4 linked regions of the Homo sapiens genome follow. The protein of the gene in region 3 purifies or fractionates together with the protein of the main gene of each other region. This does not show direct contact. Each region holds a gene or a part of one and is shown on either strand. Other genes may lie near its edges. The genes, in order: EXOC6B, P4HA2, ASAP1 and ARHGEF2.

Region 1 (4,451 bases), on a different chromosome or scaffold from region 3:
TGCCCTAAGGGGACACTGTAAAAAAAAGAAAGTTTGAGACTCATTACCAGTTTTACTTGCTTTTCTTGACTTCCTATATGATTATTATGGGCTCATCATTTTTGATCTCAACTTTTTTTTTTTTTTTTTTTTTAGCAGATTACACTGAGTCTTACTGTCAGACCCAGGGTTCATTCACTTGAATATCCTATAATACAAGGAGTACCCACTGCCTTTGTCTTTAGTCTAGCTGTCCCTACCCATATTCATAGGGGATGATCTCACCTTTTTTCCTTATCCCGTTCAGAGGCAGCAGCATGCACAGACTTGATGTTTCAGATCCCATGCCTTACTTGGGATGTGCCTCTATTGTCATTATCTCCTGTTTTTCATCACTATCATGAAACAGGTTTGATTAAGGCAGTAGCTCTCTTGCCTTAACTACTCTCAGTTGTAAACCTCGAACTTTTCTTCTTCATAGTATGTCTTTCCTCTTTCTTCATCTTTTGAGGTAACATTGTAAAGGCACCAGATTCTTAACTGTTCGTGAGATGGGTTTTCTAGCTGAAGAGAAACTAACGAACACAGAAAGTAAATTGAGAGCAGATATTAGATTAGTATATCCCTAAAATACCTGCTCTTCAAAAAAATCCACTTGGCTGTATTGCCTAACCAGACTCTTTCCTTTGCCAGCTATTATTTGTGTATCATTACTTGCTTTCTTTCTTTGCTATGATACGGATTATTTTTTCCAGTCTTACTCCTTTTTGTTTGAGGAGTCACAGTGGCTTGACTTTTTCATTATATTACTGTTATTACTTTAGTTTTGAGCTGTACATGCAATGTTGGTAGATTCCCATCTATCATAAGGATATACCACCTCTTCTTTTTCATTGTAATTCTGAAAGGCCCAAGCATATCCACACATAAAGAGGGTGTTGCCTAGCAAACTCTTTTGGGAAAGTAGCTATCTCTCTCTTTGTCTTTACCTTAAAAATTATTTTGTTATCTGTGAGTCCTAATTTTGGAAAGAGGCCTGTAAGATGTTAAAGCCTGCCTGTCCTGTTTTTAAAATAATGTTCATTCCTGCTTTGTGTTATAAATACTAAAATTTTGATGACAAATCATTTATGAACAATAGCTCCCTGTTTTCATTTTTCAAATCCCATCCCTATATCTCTACTTTTCCTTTATATCACTTACTCAGTAGAAGTCATTTCTTCACTTGGTACTCTGGGTAATAGCAATTAACATTCAGTCTAATTGTTGTTTAAGATTTTGTTTTCAAACTTAAAATTTAATATTGAAATACATTGCCATTAAAAAACAACTATATTGAGATATAATTCATGTATCATACAATTTACCCATTTAAAGTATACAATTAAATGGTTTTGGGTATGTATATTCGCAGAGTTGTGCAGCAATCACCACAACCTAATTTTAGAAAATTTTCATTACTCAAAAAGAAACCTTGTACCCATTAGTGGTCTCTCCATTCTGTTCCCTCTCTCTCCCTAGGCAATCACTACTTTTCTTCATGGGTTTGGCTGTTCTGGACATCGGGACATTTTGTATAAATGGAATCAAACAATATGGGTTTTTTTGGTAACTGAATGTTTTCAAGGTTCATCTATGTGGTAGCATGTATCAGTACTTAATTTCTTTTTATCGATGAATAATATTCCATTGTGTGGATATACCACATTTTATTTGTTCATCAGTTGATGGACATTTGGGTTGTTTCCATTTTGGGGCTGTGGAACAATGCTGCCATGGCCATTTGTATACTAGTTTTTGTAGAGACATATGTTTTCATTTTTGTTGAGTATGTACCTAGGAGTGGAATTTCTAGGCTGTAAGGTAACTCTATGTTTAACATTATGAGGAACTGCTAGACTGTTTTTCCAAAGTGCATGCGCCATTTTACATTCCTGTAGCAATGTATCAGGGTTCCAATTTTTCCACATCCTTGTCAACACTTGTTATCATCTTTTTTACTTTGCCATCCTTGTGGGTGTGAAGTTGCATTTCATTGTAGTTTTGATTTGCATTCCCGTAATAGCTGTTCTTTTCATGTGCTTATTGGTCATTGTTTATCCCTTTTGGATCCTTTGCCCGTTTTTAAATTGGGTTATTTGCTTTTCTTTTTTTGGTTGAGTTGTAGGAGTTCTCTATGTATTCTGAATATGTCCTGTTATCAGATATATGATTTGTAATACTATATCCTATTCTGTGATTTGTCTTTTCCATTTTTTGATATCTTTCATGTTCTTAGCTTTTGCTGCACAAAAGTTTTTAATTTAAATTAATTCCAGTTATCATTTTTTTTCTTATTTTGTTTCATGCTTTTGATGTTATATTTAGGAAACTTTTGCGTAATGCATGATCATGAAGATTTGCTCCTATATTTTTTCTAAGTGTTATATAATTTTATCTTTTACATTTAGATCTGTGATTCATTTTGAGTTAATTTTTGTTTACAATGTAAGGAGGAGTGTCCAGTTTCATTCTTTAGCATGTGGATATCCAGTTGTTCCAACACCATTTGTTGACTGCTTTTTTTATTTTTTAAAAAACCCAGATTCCTGGTTGATTTATTTTGATCTCCTTATCATGATTTATGTTCCTTATTTGTGGCAGAAATGTAACATTGAAAACCCTGTTATTGAGTTTATGTGATTTTTGCTAGCTAGCCTAACTTCCTTCATTTAGTATTCTCACCCAGGGAAGTTTGCTCTAGTTTTCAGCGAAAGTTTTTCTCTTTTTGGCTCAATTCCTGTATCATAAGAATGATTTGATTCCTATATTTGATCTTGGTAAATAACTTTAGGGACTGATTATTGTCTTCTGGAATTATTTTGTGTCATACTACTCAGTCTTATGTAACATAAAGTATATTAATGATACAGTTACCTTTTTCACTGTTAAAACAGTATGTCAACATATGGAATTTGGAAACTAGATTAAAAATTGCTTACAATTCTATAACACAGCTGCTGTTGTTTTGGTGCTTTTCCTTCTAGAACTTTGCCTTATATATTTTATTATTACAAAGCTTTACTTATGGGTGTAGGAATAATTTTCTGTCTTGCTTTTTTAAGTTGTTTGTTTATAAAGCTAGCTCTTTATAAACAAGAAACAAATTGAGGGGGATATTTTCAAAAGGCTGTTTTATTTAAGGTCATTTGATAAGTGAATATGGGGATGTGGCATCCACTTACTACTTCTGTGCCTTTGACCACATGGCTCTTATTTTTCCATCCAGCACCCTCTCCCATTAATTCATCTTTACAGAGATCAGTTAATCATAATCCTTGGTTCGTGACACTTTCTCATTATAGGTCCATGGCTCTCTTTAATAAATTAAATCAATTTATTTTTATAAGCAACTTACCACCCAAGTGGGCAATTTTTTCTCATCTAAAAAGTGATTAGAAAAATGAAGATAAAGCATCCTTCATGGTACAATGCAAGGTACCAAGCTAGGACTACTGCCTAGCAGGTAGCATGAATGATGCTTTCTCTCTCTCTCTCTCTTTTTTCTTTTCATACTCTTCCTCCAATGTAGATGGGGTGCCATGGTACCTGCTAGGCATTGGTCACTCAAGTGTGAGTCATCTTCCACCTTTACCCTTGGGTTTGCTATGTGGACTTAAGTATTTCTATTTTTTGAGTTTTGTTAGTTTAGTGGTTAGCCTATTTTTTTTGTTTCCTTTTCCTGGTCCCACATATCTAAGGGATATAATACTTATCAATAATCAATCCTGGGAGGGGTTATTTTGGGGTGGAGCAGAGAAAGGAGGAGGAGATAGGAAATAAATATATAAAAGCCCTTCAGGTGATTGTGATATACTCCGTCCTTGACAATCACTGAGGGGAAGAACATTCCCATTGCTCATGCTTATTTTTTAATAGTAGTGCCCTTTTAAAAATGACATTTTTATATTTTAATTATAAATGTAATAGAATGACTTAAGAAGAAACAACAACAAATAACTTAATTCTATTACCTTTCCACCACTTTTATATTTTTATATTTCCTCTTAACTTTTTTATATGCATGTTATTATATTAAATATTAGATGATTATTATGTGTCTTGCTTTTTCAGTTAACATGTTATATACAGGTTTATACATTATAATGATGTCACTTTAGTGGCTTTATTAATGAATTGATTCATTCATATATTCATTCAATATTGAGCAATGTCTATGTGCCAGATACTCTTCCAGGCTCTGGGGTACAGCAGGCAGCAATATAGACAAGTCCCTATCCTTATTGAGCTTATAGAGTCCGGAGTGGGCACTTACAGAATAAATGAATAAATATATAATGTAGTGCTATTTAGCGATTAATGTTACATAATGACTGGGTTATTGCTTTCAATTAGGGGATTAGGAAAGGTAGCTTTGGCAAAGGTTTGAATAGAGTGAAGCAACAAGCCATATGGCTCTCTGTGAGGGAAAT
Region 2 (4,451 bases), on a different chromosome or scaffold from region 3:
ACCTAAAGTAGGTGTCACTGTAGGTCCTTCTCGGGTCACTGAAGGGGGAAGGTCCTTTTTCTCATCCCTAGCACTATGGGTGGTTGGTTTGCCCATCTAGCCACCCTTTATCCATATCTAGCATGGGCCTACCGTGGGGATACAGAGATGCTTCAGACTCAGCCTGACCTTGTGAGTTCATGGTCCAGTGGAAGAAGAACAGGGTAACCAATGTGGACAGCCAAGTGCTATCATAGAAGGTCACGCTGGGAACAGGGCAGGTCTACACTGGTGTGTCAGTTCACCTGGTTGGGAGACTGGTGCGTGGGTGAGTTTTTTGGAAATGTTCCATAGGATGCTATGAAGCTGGGTCCTGTGGAGCTCCTGATTAGGACTGTAAATGAGGTGAATGACTTAGAGGAGAATGTATATCTTTATAATATTGGGTCTTCTCATCCAAGGGCATGACAGGTCTCTCCATATCTTTTTAAGTTTTCTTCATATAAGCCTTGAACATTTCTTAAGTTTATTCCTTGGTAGTTTCTTTGTTACTGTTAATTTACTTTATTTCTTCATTATTATTTTTAACTGGTTACATTATTTTATTAGTTTACTATTATATGCCAAACTATTGATTTTACAAATACATTTCATAGTAAGAGCTAATGTTTACTGAATTCTTAACTGTGGCAGGAACTTCTAAGTGCTTAACATATATATTAAGTGTTATGTCACAGTTATGAACAGCTGCTCATAATGATGTCACTGTCTCTGTTTTACCTATGAAAAAGCAAACTCATACAGATTGCAGCTAGTGGTTGAATTTACTTATTTCTTTTTTGGTTTTTAGCTGATTTCTCTTTGGTTGCCTGGATAGCATTAACACCTGGAAATAAGGAAAATTTTATTTTCTCCTGATACTTGTAGTTCCTTTGTTTTTATAACCTTATTGAATTGCCCAGAACTTCTAGAGCATAATTACGTAGAATAGGCATCCTTGTCTCATTCCTGAATTTCCTGGAAATTCCTATGGTATTTTACTGCTAAGAATGCAGTTGGCTGTTGGTTTTGTATATATGCCATGTTTTAAAATTATTCTTCTGTTTCTAGTTCATAAAAGATTTGTTCCCCATTTGACATCTTTCAAAGAGACCTATTTGCTGCCATATCCCATCACTGATGATTGGGAGGGAGGATTTAGCTCGATTCTCTATTGCTCTGCTCCTAATAGAATTGTAGGGGCCGAGGTGACCAGGAGGCCCGACACTCATGGAGAGACCTGAAATAGGTTCCTATCCTGGCCCCTGGACCTCATCTTGGAACAGCTTTGGCTTGAGGTACTAGGACATCTAGGGCTTTGAGTCAGTGGTTGGCATCATCGATGTGGCTGAGGAAGGGGGCTAGCCAGATATATGGAGAATGGGGACTAGGACTCCCCTTTCTACTCAGCTCCAGAGTCCTCCAGGAAAGAAAACTACTTTGTTGGTTGTGCCAGGATTTCCTGAGAGATTTCTTACCCGTTCTTCAGTTCCAGACACTGAGAACATTTCTCTGTGCATGTGTGCATATGTGTACACATGTGTGTGGCTGGCCAGAGGGTAGTGTTAGGAAAAGATATATTTGAATAGAAGCCATGCAAAGAGCCAAACAAGGTTGGCAAACATGTTTGGCTCTTAACATGGCTTCTATTCAAAGATAAGCTGACCCCTCCTTTCCGGAGACTGTGAGGGACAGATGCTATTCTGGCTTTGAAGTAGAGCCAATGAGCTTAACTTGGCCTGTGGGGAATGCCTGGCAGCTGTCTGTGGGGTCTCTGGCCTGCTTTCAAAATAGCCCTGTGCTTCCCCTGGGGCAGAGCACAGCTGCTCAGAGCCTCTTTGTGGGTGTCAGGCCAATGCTGAGGCACAGATGTTTGGATGGGGTCTGGCTGTGGCTGCAGTTTTCAGGGAGGGACTGACATGAGCTGAAGCTCAGGAAGGGCCATGAGTAGGAGCTTGGGAGCCGTCTGTCCTGCTTGTGCTGGCCATCTTACCAGATCATGCCATAGCAGCACAGTGTCCAAGTTGGTCCATCTCACCCCCTTACTAGCCTTCTGGTCCATCTACTCCTCTCCATCCCTTCTGCCACCACCTGGCCCGGGCCACCATCATCTCTTGCCCTGACCTCTGTCGTGGCCTCACTAGCCTCCCAGTCCCCACTCTGGCCCCTCATTAGTCAACTCTCCATGAGGTATTCACAGTGATCCATTTTACATTCACATTTTGAGTGTCCCTCCCCTGCATAAAGCCTTCCCCATTTCTCGTTGGCCACAAGGTTGCATCTAGTTCCTAGCCCCTGCTTGTCTCTTCAGCCTGTTCTCTCTTACTACTTCCCATAACCTTTAATCCACACCTACTGCAACACCCATTTTCATTCCCAGGCCTCTGGATTGCTGCTCTTTCCCTGTTCCTGTAATGTTCCTCTACTTGGATAACTCATGTTAACCCTTCAGGCCTCAGCTAGGTGGTCTCCTCCCCTAGGAAGCTATTCTTGACACTATACCCTGAGCTTCCACAGGATGGTAAGTTCACCCATGCTGTGCTGCAGTTACCTGACTGGTTTTCTGCTTTCCCCACTTGACTGAGTTGTAAGAGTGCAGGGGCCATGTCTCAGTTACCTAGCATAGTGCCAGGCACAAAGTAGGCACTCATCAATATTTATTGAAATCAAGGGGAAGTGTGTTGGGGTGGGAGTACCTGGGCCTATGGCCCCACCCATGTGAGGTCATGAGGACAGTCCACAGCTGAAGCACATGGACCTTTGCCATGTTGGCTGGCTCTGGGCGGCGAGTCCCCCTTGGGGTTTCACTAAGCCTAACTGTGGAGGCTGGGGGAGATGAAGTAGATGCAGGGAGTGCATGTGTAGTGTGTACCTGTATGAGTGGGTGGCTTCCAGGCAGTGGTTCACTTATTTTAACTTACAGAATCTTTTCCTGGTTTTATCATCTGACTTGTAAGGATCCCAAGGGAGCGAAAACTGTGCCATCTGTCTTTGCTTCTTGAGGCTGTGGGAACCCAGTGTGAGGTGGTGCAGCAGGAGAGTGTTTGGATGGGTTTCTTGGCAGAGGAGCCCACTGAGGTTCGGAAGGATGGTGGAACTTGACTCAATTGAGAGAAGTACATAAGGCGGAGGCTCAGGCATGGTGGCACAGTCTGAAAATGGTGGGAGTAGCTAAGCTCAGGCAGGCTGTGCTCAGGCAGGGGTGGTATGTGGGCCTGGCAAGGAAAGGGGCTAGTCAGGCAGATGCATGGGTAGACAAGGCAGGCATAATTCTGCAGGCAAAGCGGACCTGGGGAGGAGAAGGGATGAGCAGTGACCGAGCAGGGCAATAGCCAGGAACTGATTGCGGATTGGGAATGTGGAGGCCTCAGACTCTTGCCCTCAACTGGCCTGCAGGATCTTGGGGCCTTGGCTAGAGCCATTGGCTGCAAAGCTTCCTCCACTAGCATGGCAGTAAATCTGGTCCCAGTGCTCTCTGGGAAAATATTCAAGGCAAAACAAACAAACAAACAAATCAAGTCTTCCCTCTCCTCCTTCCTTCTAGCTTGCACGAGCCACCGTTCGTGATCCCAAGACAGGAGTCCTCACTGTCGCCAGCTACCGGGTTTCCAAAAGGTAAGCAAAGAGCAGGGGTTCGTAGCTGCTCAAGCCCCAACTTCAGGACTTCTCAGTGCCTACCCTAGGGATGGGTGGCTTGCCTTTTCCTGCCTGCTGGCACCTCCTCACCCCCTTGCAGCAGGCATCCTGTACTGCCTGTTCATGCTGGCCCTGACTCTGGGGACAGAGTTCAGGACCTCATGGAAGCCTGCCCTTCCGTCTTCTTTTCTCTGCCCTTTTCTTTTTGCCCAGCTCCTGGCTAGAGGAAGATGATGACCCTGTTGTGGCCCGAGTAAATCGTCGGATGCAGCATATCACAGGGTTAACAGTAAAGACTGCAGAATTGTTACAGGTACAGATAGTACCTGGGACTGTAGGAGTTGGGAAGTGGGTATTTGTGGCTAGATGGTCTCACAGGGTGTCCAGAACTGGGCCAAGAGGCCCAACTGTATGACTACTGCCTGATGCTATGAATATGGAGTGATCTCATTTTAGGAAACCAGAATTAATCATGCCTGCTGGCTTTCAACAATTAGTGTTCAACAAATATCTATTGAGCATCTGCTGTGTGCCCAAGTGTGCTGCAAGCTAGGGATCAGGGGTAGTTATGGTAGGTTCGTTCATGTCTTCTTGACAACAGAAGCTCAAATCCTGAATGGTCTCAGGGACATCTCTAAGAGAGCTAAAAATGACTTCAGAGGCCATGGTTCTGTGTCATAATCAAATACATTTGAAGGTCAAAGTATTCTGTGTGTTTTCTCCTGCTGAACCACAACTGAAGTTGCTCCAAAAGCAGCAGCAGGGGACTTCCCATGAGGGACTGCCAAGATGGGGTC
Region 3 (4,451 bases):
CCTCTCAATTATCCCTACTGGCTGAGGCAACACTTTAATGGTAGCCTGAGGCGCCAGCCCTGTGAGACATTTGACAACTCACAGCACAACAACCCTCCTATGAGCGGGATTCCTCGTCTGGGCGCAGTGGCTCAAGCCTGTAGTCCCAGCACCTTGAGGGGTCAAGGTGGGAGGATCAGTTGAGTACAGGAATTCAAGACCAGCCTGGGCAACATAGCAAGACCTCATCTCTACCAAAAAAAAAAAAAAAAAAAAAAAAAAGCTGGGCATGGTGCCACACACCTGTGGTTCCAGCTACTTGGAAGGCTGAGGTGGGAGGATCAGGATCACTTGAGCCCCGGAGATGGAGGCGACTGAGAAAGGCCTGTCTCAAGGGAAAAAAAAAATTCCTCTCCAAGTACTGTCTCTGGAAAAATGTTCCTTATTAGAGAGTACAAGAGAATGGGCTTTGGTCACACAGAACCTGGGTTAGAATCCCAGGCTGAGAACTACAGGCCAATTACTCAGTATCTCTGAACAAATCCCCTAATTCACATGATGCCAGTAACTGCATAATAGCACCTACCTCATTTTGAGATGATTACAAAAGAAGTACTAGGCGTAGAGCCTCTCATAAGGCAAGTGCTCCATAACTATTAACTACCACTATTATTACTAGCGTCTTCAAAAGAGTGGCATTTTAATGTAGAGAAAAGTAACTTTCCAGAGAACTGAAACTCCACTCCACATTATAAAAAGTACAGGTTCTGGAGCCACGTGGACCTCAGATTGAATCTCAACTTTACCTCTTACCAGTGGTGTGACCTTGGGCTGGTCAGTGTATCTCATTGAGCCTTAGTTTCCTCTTCTGTAAAATGGGCACAAAAGCACATACTTCACAGGATTGTTGTAAGGTTAACACAAATAATGCACAAAGAGAGCCCACAGCACTGCCTGTCCTGCTCTTGGTACCTGGCAAATGGCATGGTCCCTATTTCAAGCTGCTCCTGACAACACGATCCGCGCCACTCAAATGTACCTTGCAATTCTTACCTCAAAGCTGGCTAGACTATCAGCTCTGAGGATGGAGTCACAAGCCCTTCGAGGATGGAGTCACAAGCCCTTCTCAAAGCCCATACCTTTCCCGGCGTTCCTAGGAGGCAGAGGGGGAGCCTCCGTGGTTGGTGATGTGGGCGAGTCTGTGCTTGTGGAAACGAAGATCTGGTTGGTGAAGGCTCCATAGGAGAGCCGCTGTTTGTCCCTTGGAGTGCTGAATCCTGGCAGTGCCAGCTTGTCCTGGGGGGAGATGCTGGAGGAGTGGCAGAAGCTCTGAGGTCTGGGTGAGCGCTCTTTCTTGATAGGGCTTGGCTGGCAGATGAAATAAGAAGGTGAGATAATAATCAAGGACCACCCTTCATGTGTACAGAGGGCCTCCGCAGGGCGGGCTCAGGTGGGAATCTGGGTTCCTGTGGCTCTCTGAGCTTTATGAGGTCAGCCACAATGAGCCTCATGATGCTGACACAGTACAAGGGAAGGATCTAGATACCACACTTTCATATCGTTCACCACTATGAATAATCACACTAGTGAAACACTGGTTAGGATCAGCAGCAGTGTCAGAAGCACAGTAAGGTCACAGGTAGATTTAACTTTTAATAAGCAAACACCTTCAGAATGCAGGACTTTTTCAGCAACATTTGAATAGTATTTCCACCTATTTCTAATTTGCTACATTAAGTTTTGTTCCCTGCTCAACCCTTTAACGTTGAAGTTCTTTCTTTGCCTCTTTTCTCATTTTATATCCCCCTGCAAAGTAAACGGATTCACACCCACTGCCCGCTACACAATAATTACTTACAGATCTGTAAATACAACCCCAGTGACTTGTGTTCCAAACCAATGGCCCATGAGGTATCTCTGGTATTTGCGCTTGTGGTGATGGCATTAGGATCCACTCAACTGCCCAGGTTAGAAACCTCAGTGTCACCTGGAGTCCCTGGTTCCTGCATTCCCCTTGGAAATATCCCTTGAAGCCCCTCCTAGTACAGGTGCTCACCAGCTCCCACTGCAGCTCTAGCCTCCAGAATGGCCCCTTCTCCAGTTTCCTTCCTCCAGTCCATTCTCCACACTGCAGCCAGAGCTGGTGGGAAACCTTGCTCTTTAGACAATAAACCTCTGTGGGCTTCTGACTGCTTGCACAAAAACCCAAAGGCCAAACCTTGCCCACAAAGCCATCCTGATCTGGTTTGCCTGACTCTACAAGGCAGCTGCCTGCCTCTCCCCACCCAGCCAGGTGAATGCATCTCACACACAGTGCTTCTCTCCATTCCTCCGACATCCAGACTCTACCATGACTCCTTCCCTTGGCACGTGGTGTTCTGGAATGATGCATTCCACCCCACTTCTTTCCCTGGCAAGCTTCCACCTATCCTTAGAAACCCATCTCCAATGTCCTTGAGAAGGCAGACTGAGGCAGCTGCTTGGTCCTCTGAATAGCTCTCAGGAATTTTTCCATACTCTTATAATGATTATCACATTGTATTATAATTTATTTCCTCTTAAAGTTGTTAAGGCTTGAGGACCTCTTTGGCCATTCCTTACATCCTGCCTGTGATACAGGAAATGTCCAATACATAGGCAATCAATTAATGCATGAATGAACTTTCAGAGGTAGTTAACTGCTTATAAGGAAAACTCAGTGAGAACTGGGTTTAATCCTCCAAACTGTCTTTACTAGCTGGGAGACTTTAGACAAGTTGCTAAATTCTCTTTGTAAGTTTTCTCTTCTGTAAAATGGGGATAACAATGTCCCTTATGTACTTTTTTTTTTTTTTCCTCTGAGACAGGGTCTCACTCAGACACCCACACCCAGGCTGGAGTGCAATGGGACAATCTTGGCTCATCACAGCCTTGAGTTCCTGGGCTCAGGTGATTCTCCCACCTCTGCCTCCCGGGCAGCTGGGACCACAGGCGCACACCACCACGGCCAGCTAATTTTTGTATTTTTTGTAGAGAGAGGGTTTCGCCATGTTGCCCAGGCTGGTCTCAAGCTTCTGGGCTCAAGGCATCCACCCGTCTCACCCTCCCAAAGTGCTGGGATTACAGGTGTGAGCCACAGCACTCAGTTATGGACTTTCAATAAAGATGATCTGAGATAACGTAAGTGCTTAAATCTGTCTAATCCATATTTAATGAACATCATTCCTTAATGACAGGCATACATTCTGAGAAATGTGTTAGGTGATTTCGTTCTTGTGCGAACATCATAGAGTATACTTACACAAACCTAGATGGGAGAGCCTACTACACACCTAGGCTATATGGTATAGCCTATTGCTCCCAGGCTACAAACCTGTACAGCATGCTACTATACTAAACATTGTAAACAACTGTAACACAATGGTAATTACTTGTGTATCTAAACATAGAAGAGGTAAAATAAAAACATGTTATATAAGATTAAAAAATGGTACATCTATGTAGGACACTTTCCATAAATGGAGCTGGAAGGACTGGAAGCTGCTCTGGGTGTGAGTGAAGGCCTAGGACATTACTGTACATTTTTATACAACTCAGTGCAGTAGGTTGGTTTATACCAGCATCCCACAACCATTTGAGGAATGTGTTGCACTACCGTATTATGACATCTATGGCATCACTAGGTGATGGCTATTTTTCAGCTCCGTTTTAATCTTATATTGATCCCCATTGAGTATGCAGTGTGTTGTGGACTGAAATGTTATTATACAGTGCATGATTATGTTCAATAAATAACAACTGTTATTTACTTACTAATTACTTGTTTTGAAGGTTAATTTTTTTTTTTTTTTTTTTTAAGATATAGGGTCTTGCTCTGTCATTCAGGTCAAGAGTGCAGTAGTACAATCATAGCTCACTGCAGCCTCAAACTCCTGGGCTCAAGCAATCCTCCTGCCTCAGCTTGTCAAATAGCACCACCACGTTTTATTGATTGATCCATTTACTTTGTAGAGACAGGGTCTCACCATTTTGCTTAGGTTGCTCTCGAATTCCTGGTCTCAAGCGATAGTTCTGCCTTGGCCTCCCAAAGCGCTGGGATTATAGGCATGAGCCACCATGCCTAGCTTCATGGTTAATTTTATGTGTCAACAGGCTACAGTGTCCTGGTGTTTGGTCAAATACTAGTCTAGATGTTGCTGTAAAGGAATTTTTTAGATGCAATTACCATTTAAATGAGTAGATTTCGAGTCAAGGGAACTACCCTTCATGATGTGGGTGTGCCTCACCTAATCAGCCAAAGAAAGGCCTTAAAAAGACTGAGGTCCCCCAAAGGGTAAGGAATGCTGCCTCCAGACTGTCTTTAGCCTGAAGACTGCAACATTAACTCCTGCTGGGATTTCCAGCCTGCTGGCCTGCCCTGTGCATTTTGAACTTGACAGCTCCTTCAATCATGTGAGCCAATTCCTTAAAAAAAATTTCTCTGTCTCTCTCCC
Region 4 (4,451 bases), on a different chromosome or scaffold from region 3:
GAGGCTTCTGGGGACATAGACAAAAATTCTAGGGGTCGTGGAGGTTAGGGAGAGAGTTGAGGGGGAGGGGAGAAGTGAGGATAGGGGAAGGGAGTCTAAAGCTTAGGGAAGTCACTGAGTGACTTGCAGGAGGTTAGATGGGGCCTAGAGAAGGACCTACTGAGGCCGACCAGAGGAGTTACAGTGGGGTCTGATCTTAGCCACTCTGGCTGTGGAATTTGACCTTGGAATCAAGGAGGGGACAGATGTGAATGTGTGCATCCCCTGTGTGCATGTTACTGGTGTGCTGGTGTGTCAGTGTGTCTGTCTGCCTGCCTGCCCTCCTATTCTGTACCCAGATGCTCTGGGCTACTGTTTTGAACAGTGGTCAGCAAAGTAGGGGGTTCGTGCTCTCTGGCCACGAGGAAGTAGCTTCATCCTTAGCTTCAGTTTCTGGTTGGAAATATCATCTAGGAGCTGAGTGAGCGGATTGGTTAGGATTTCTGAAGCTGGTAAGAGAAAAGGCTGAGAGGAGCTGGCTGGACCCTTCCGGGTTTGTTTATGTCTCTTTGGGAGAGGGTGGGGGTGGGGTTGCAGGCAGCAGCTGCCCCCCTCCCAACCCAGCCGGCCTGCCTTGTGCCAGGAGGGCAGGGAGTCCTGGCACAGCTATTGTTCACTTGCACAAATGCCTGTCTGTTTGCATCGCTTACCCCCCCTCTCTTTCTGCTTGTCTCTCTCTCCTGGCCTGACAGGTGTGGCCGCGTAGGGGGCAGGCTGGGTTCCAGGATGCTTGGGTCTCAGGGTCCCTAACCTGATTTATTCCTTGTGGCCCTTAGCAATCCTCTTCCGTTTCACCCGTACCCACTCCCATTGCCAGTGTCTCATCTTCATTCACTAAGCAAGCATTTATTAAGTGCCTTTGTGTGTGCAGTGATGTCTTTCTGTGTTGTTTCTGGCTTTGGCATTAGTGTTTCCACTTGGCTGCCTTCCCCTCTGCCTCCTGTCTTCATCTTGTCCCTGGAAGCTCATAAAGGAGCAGGGCCCGGCTGAGACCACCCCAAGCCCTCTTCTCAGTCCCACCCCCAGCAATCCCTCACCTCTTCATTTCCCAGCCCTATAGCTCCTCCTCCAGGACTCAGTGCCCTTCATAGCCAACGGCGCCTCTGCTGTACAGGGGCTGAGCCACAGGTGACTCGAATCCTGGTGGAATGCTCCACAGGCTCTCCGGTCACTATTACAGAGGGTGTGGACAGAGGTGTCACCATCTTGGGGAAGGGGCTGCTGCCAGGTACAGCTGGAGGAGAGGTGATTCTGAGTACTCTGTGACTCTCCCAGAAGTCTTGATTTGGACATACCTGAGAGAGAAGCAAAGGCAGCTGAGAGAGCTGGGCACAGTGGCTCGCACCTGTAATCCTAGCATTTTGGAAGACCAAGGCAGCTGGATCGCATGAGCTCAGGAATTTGAGACAAGCCTGGGCAACATAGTGAGACCTCATCTCTACAAAAACATTAAGTTTTTAAAATCTATTATTAAAAAAAAAAAAGTCAGATGAGAGCTTAGGGCTTGCTTGGAGAAGCTCTACCTCGCCTGGGTGGATCTGCCTGGCCTTGCTGCCTGCTGGGAGCCCAGGAAGCCAAAGTCCTAGCCTTGGCATTGCCTTCCCCTCCATGTACGTCACTGTTTCCTCATCCCTTATTCTGGGAGACAAAGTGGAGAGAAGAGGGGAGACTGTGTTTGCCTTTGAGCTTTTCAGTAGAGATCCACAATGCCCTCTGCCATTGCTCCCATCTTTCTTTCTTTTTTCTTTTCTTTTTTTTTTTTTGAGACAGAGTCTCGCTCTGTCACCCAGGCTGGAGTGCAGTGGCATGATCTTGGCTCACTGCAACCTCCACCTCCTGCGTTCAAGCAATTCTCCTGCCTCAGCCTCCTGAGTAGTTGGGATTACAGGTGCCCACCACCATACCCGGCCAATTTTTGTATTTTTAGTAGAGATGGGGTTTTGCCATGTTGGCCAGGCTGGTCTCAAACTCCTGATCTCAAGTGATCTGCCCGCCTCGGCCTCTCAAAGTGTTAGGATTATAGGCATGAGCCACTGCGCTCGGCCTGGCCCTGTCTTTCTTTCCCAAAAGTGACTGAGATCTGGGATGACAGTGGAAGGAAGTTTGGGGTTGGTCTTCTGACTTCCAGAGGAAACCCTCAGGGTCTAAACTCAAAGGAAATAGGAGAGAATGGCTTAGAGCCCTTCAGGAGGAGGGAGAAAAGAGAAACAAGAAGAGACAGAAGGTTCTAAAGCTCTGATAAGGAAGGAAGAGGGTTTCCAGAATAGGGGCCAGGGTGCTACTGAGACCCCATGTCTTGGTGTCCATACATCCTTCCTTGCTTCTTTGCTTCCTTCCTTTTCTTTCATTTTGAGACATGTATTGGGTGCCTATTGTATACCAGGTATTGTGCTAAGGGCTTTCATATTCTTTATTTATCCTTGATGTAGCAGTAGTGTGGATGAAGGTGTGTAGCAAGAAGAACTTCCCATGGGATTTGTGAGAAAGAGACAGAATGACTCTAGGTCTGAGCGTGGTGGCTCACACCTATAATTCTAGCACTTTGGGGAGGCTGGGGCAGGAGGATCACTTGATCCTAGGAGTTCGAGACCAGCCTGGGCAACATAGCAAGACGCTGTCTCTACAAAAAAAATTTAAAAATTAGGTGAGCATCATGATGCATGCCTGTGGTCCCAGCTATTTGGAGGGCTGAGGTGGAAGGATCACTTGAGCCCGGGAGGTCAAGGCTGCGGTGAGCCATGATCATGCCAATGTACTCCAGTCCAGGCAACAGAGTGAGACCCTGTCTCAAAAAAAAAAAGAAAAAAAAAAGTATCTAGATGCTGGAGAGCAAAGGACTGAACCAAGCAGGAAGGGCCTCTGAGCACTGGGGTGGGTGTTATGGATTGTGGAGTAATGGGCCCTTTTTCTTGGTGCATAGGTTGGGTCTTGGAGGTAAAGGGCTGTCCTACTTGGGCGTGGGTAAATGGGAGACCAATGTGATTATCTTAAGAATACCTGGAAAAGAGTAGGACAAAGAACCAAACAAGCCCACTCACTCCACCTCTGGAGCAGGCACCCCTGGTAAGCAGGCCCTATGTCCTTCCATCCTCAGAAGCCTGAGCCCTGGGGCGGGCACAGGCAACCTCCGGGACAATAGCACTAGGCAGTGCCAGGGTCGCTTGCTGCTGGGCAGTGCCCATGCTGGGATGTGCTGCTGCTGTGGCTGCTGCCCGCTGCTGGCCCACCTAGAGCAGGGGTCACTTCGAGAGAGGGTGAGTGTTGGGAGGTGGAGGAGGCAGGGCCCAGAGTACCAGGGCTGTCTGTGGAGCATTGATGCCAGAGAGAGGAAGGGCCACTAGAGACCCTGTTCTCTGGCTGCCCCAGTCTTCTCCCTCCCTTTGCCACTCCATCTGAGCTGGTCAGACAGATGAGTGTTTGTGGATGCCACAGGGGGAGGGTGGAGGGCAAAGGACAGAGGTCAGGTGTGGAAGAGAGTACTCGTAGCAGCACTGGGGCAGAGCTGCAGCACTGCCCATTCTGGAGTGACCCTGGTCCAGCCATGTTGTTTTTTTTAATACTATTTTCAGCTTGCTTGCTTTTACTTATGTGTGTATATATATATATGTATATATTTTTTTTTTTTATAGAGATGGGTCTCGCTGTGTTGCTCAGGTTGTTCTCAAACTCCTGGCCTCAAGCGATCCTCCCACCTCAGCCCCGCAAAGTGCTGGGATTACAGGTGTGAGCCACCTCACCGGCCTCTTGCTTTTAATTCAAATGTAATACATGCTCAAACTTTTGGTTTGAGTTATATAGAAGGCTGGGAGGGCAGGAGAGGAGGAGAAAAGGGAGAGTATATGGCAGTGGGAAGAGATTTTTGGACTTGGTGTTTGAGGTCCTGTGAGGTTATTATTCAAAGGTGAATTTGAACTTCTTTTTTTTTTTTTGAGACATAGTCTCACTCTGTGGCCCAGGCTGGAGTGCAGTGGCCCAATCTCAACCCACCACAACCTCCAACCTCCCCGGTTCAAGCAATTCTCCTGCCTCAGCCTCCCAAGTAGCTGGGATTACAGGTGCCTGCCACTACGCCCAGCTAATTTTTTGTATTTTTAGTAGAGATGGGGTTTCACCATGTTGGTCAGGCTGGTCTCGAACTCCTGACCTCAGGTAATCCACCCGCCTCGACCTCCCAAAGTGCTGGGATTGCAGGTGTGAGCCACTGCACCCAGCCTGAATTTGAACTTCTAAAGAGGTATAATTTGGTGCAAGATAGGTGGAGGTTAGACCAAAGGGAGCATTTTCTAGTGGTCCGGGTAGGTAGGTGCCAGAATAGAAAAAAGGAGGCCAGAACATTTTAGAGGTTTGAGTTAGAGGCTAGAGGCAGCTCAGCTTCCTGAATAAGCCTAGGTAGAGGAGCAGTTGGCCTGCGT

Evidence for each region.
Region 1: the proteins of ASAP1 (region 3) and EXOC6B fractionate together in Homo sapiens (co-fractionation; one large-scale study listed by BioGRID). This does not show direct contact.
Region 2: the proteins of ASAP1 (region 3) and P4HA2 purify together in Homo sapiens (co-immunoprecipitation; one large-scale study listed by IntAct). This does not show direct contact.
Region 4: the proteins of ASAP1 (region 3) and ARHGEF2 purify together in Homo sapiens (affinity purification with western blotting, with the first as the bait; one study listed by BioGRID). This does not show direct contact.

The regions. Positions count from the first base shown.
Region 1 is NC_000002.12:72,818,833-72,823,283, reverse strand, and holds part of EXOC6B (exocyst complex component 6B), read left to right. Parts: intron 1-4,451. UniProt on the Homo sapiens protein: Component of the exocyst complex involved in the docking of exocytic vesicles with fusion sites on the plasma membrane.
Region 2 is NC_000005.10:132,203,264-132,207,714, reverse strand, and holds part of P4HA2 (prolyl 4-hydroxylase subunit alpha-2 isoform 2 precursor), read left to right. Parts: coding exon 1-7; intron 8-3,562; coding exon 3,563-3,633; intron 3,634-3,867; coding exon 3,868-3,967; intron 3,968-4,451. UniProt on the Homo sapiens protein: Catalyzes the post-translational formation of 4-hydroxyproline in -Xaa-Pro-Gly- sequences in collagens and other proteins.
Region 3 is NC_000008.11:130,110,976-130,115,426, forward strand, and holds part of ASAP1 (arf-GAP with SH3 domain, ANK repeat and PH domain-containing protein 1), read right to left. Parts: intron 1,348-4,451; coding exon 1,119-1,347; intron 1-1,118. UniProt on the Homo sapiens protein: Possesses phosphatidylinositol 4,5-bisphosphate-dependent GTPase-activating protein activity for ARF1 (ADP ribosylation factor 1) and ARF5 and a lesser activity towards ARF6.
Region 4 is NC_000001.11:155,971,097-155,975,547, reverse strand, and holds part of ARHGEF2 (rho guanine nucleotide exchange factor 2), read left to right. Parts: intron 1-4,451. UniProt on the Homo sapiens protein: Activates Rho-GTPases by promoting the exchange of GDP for GTP.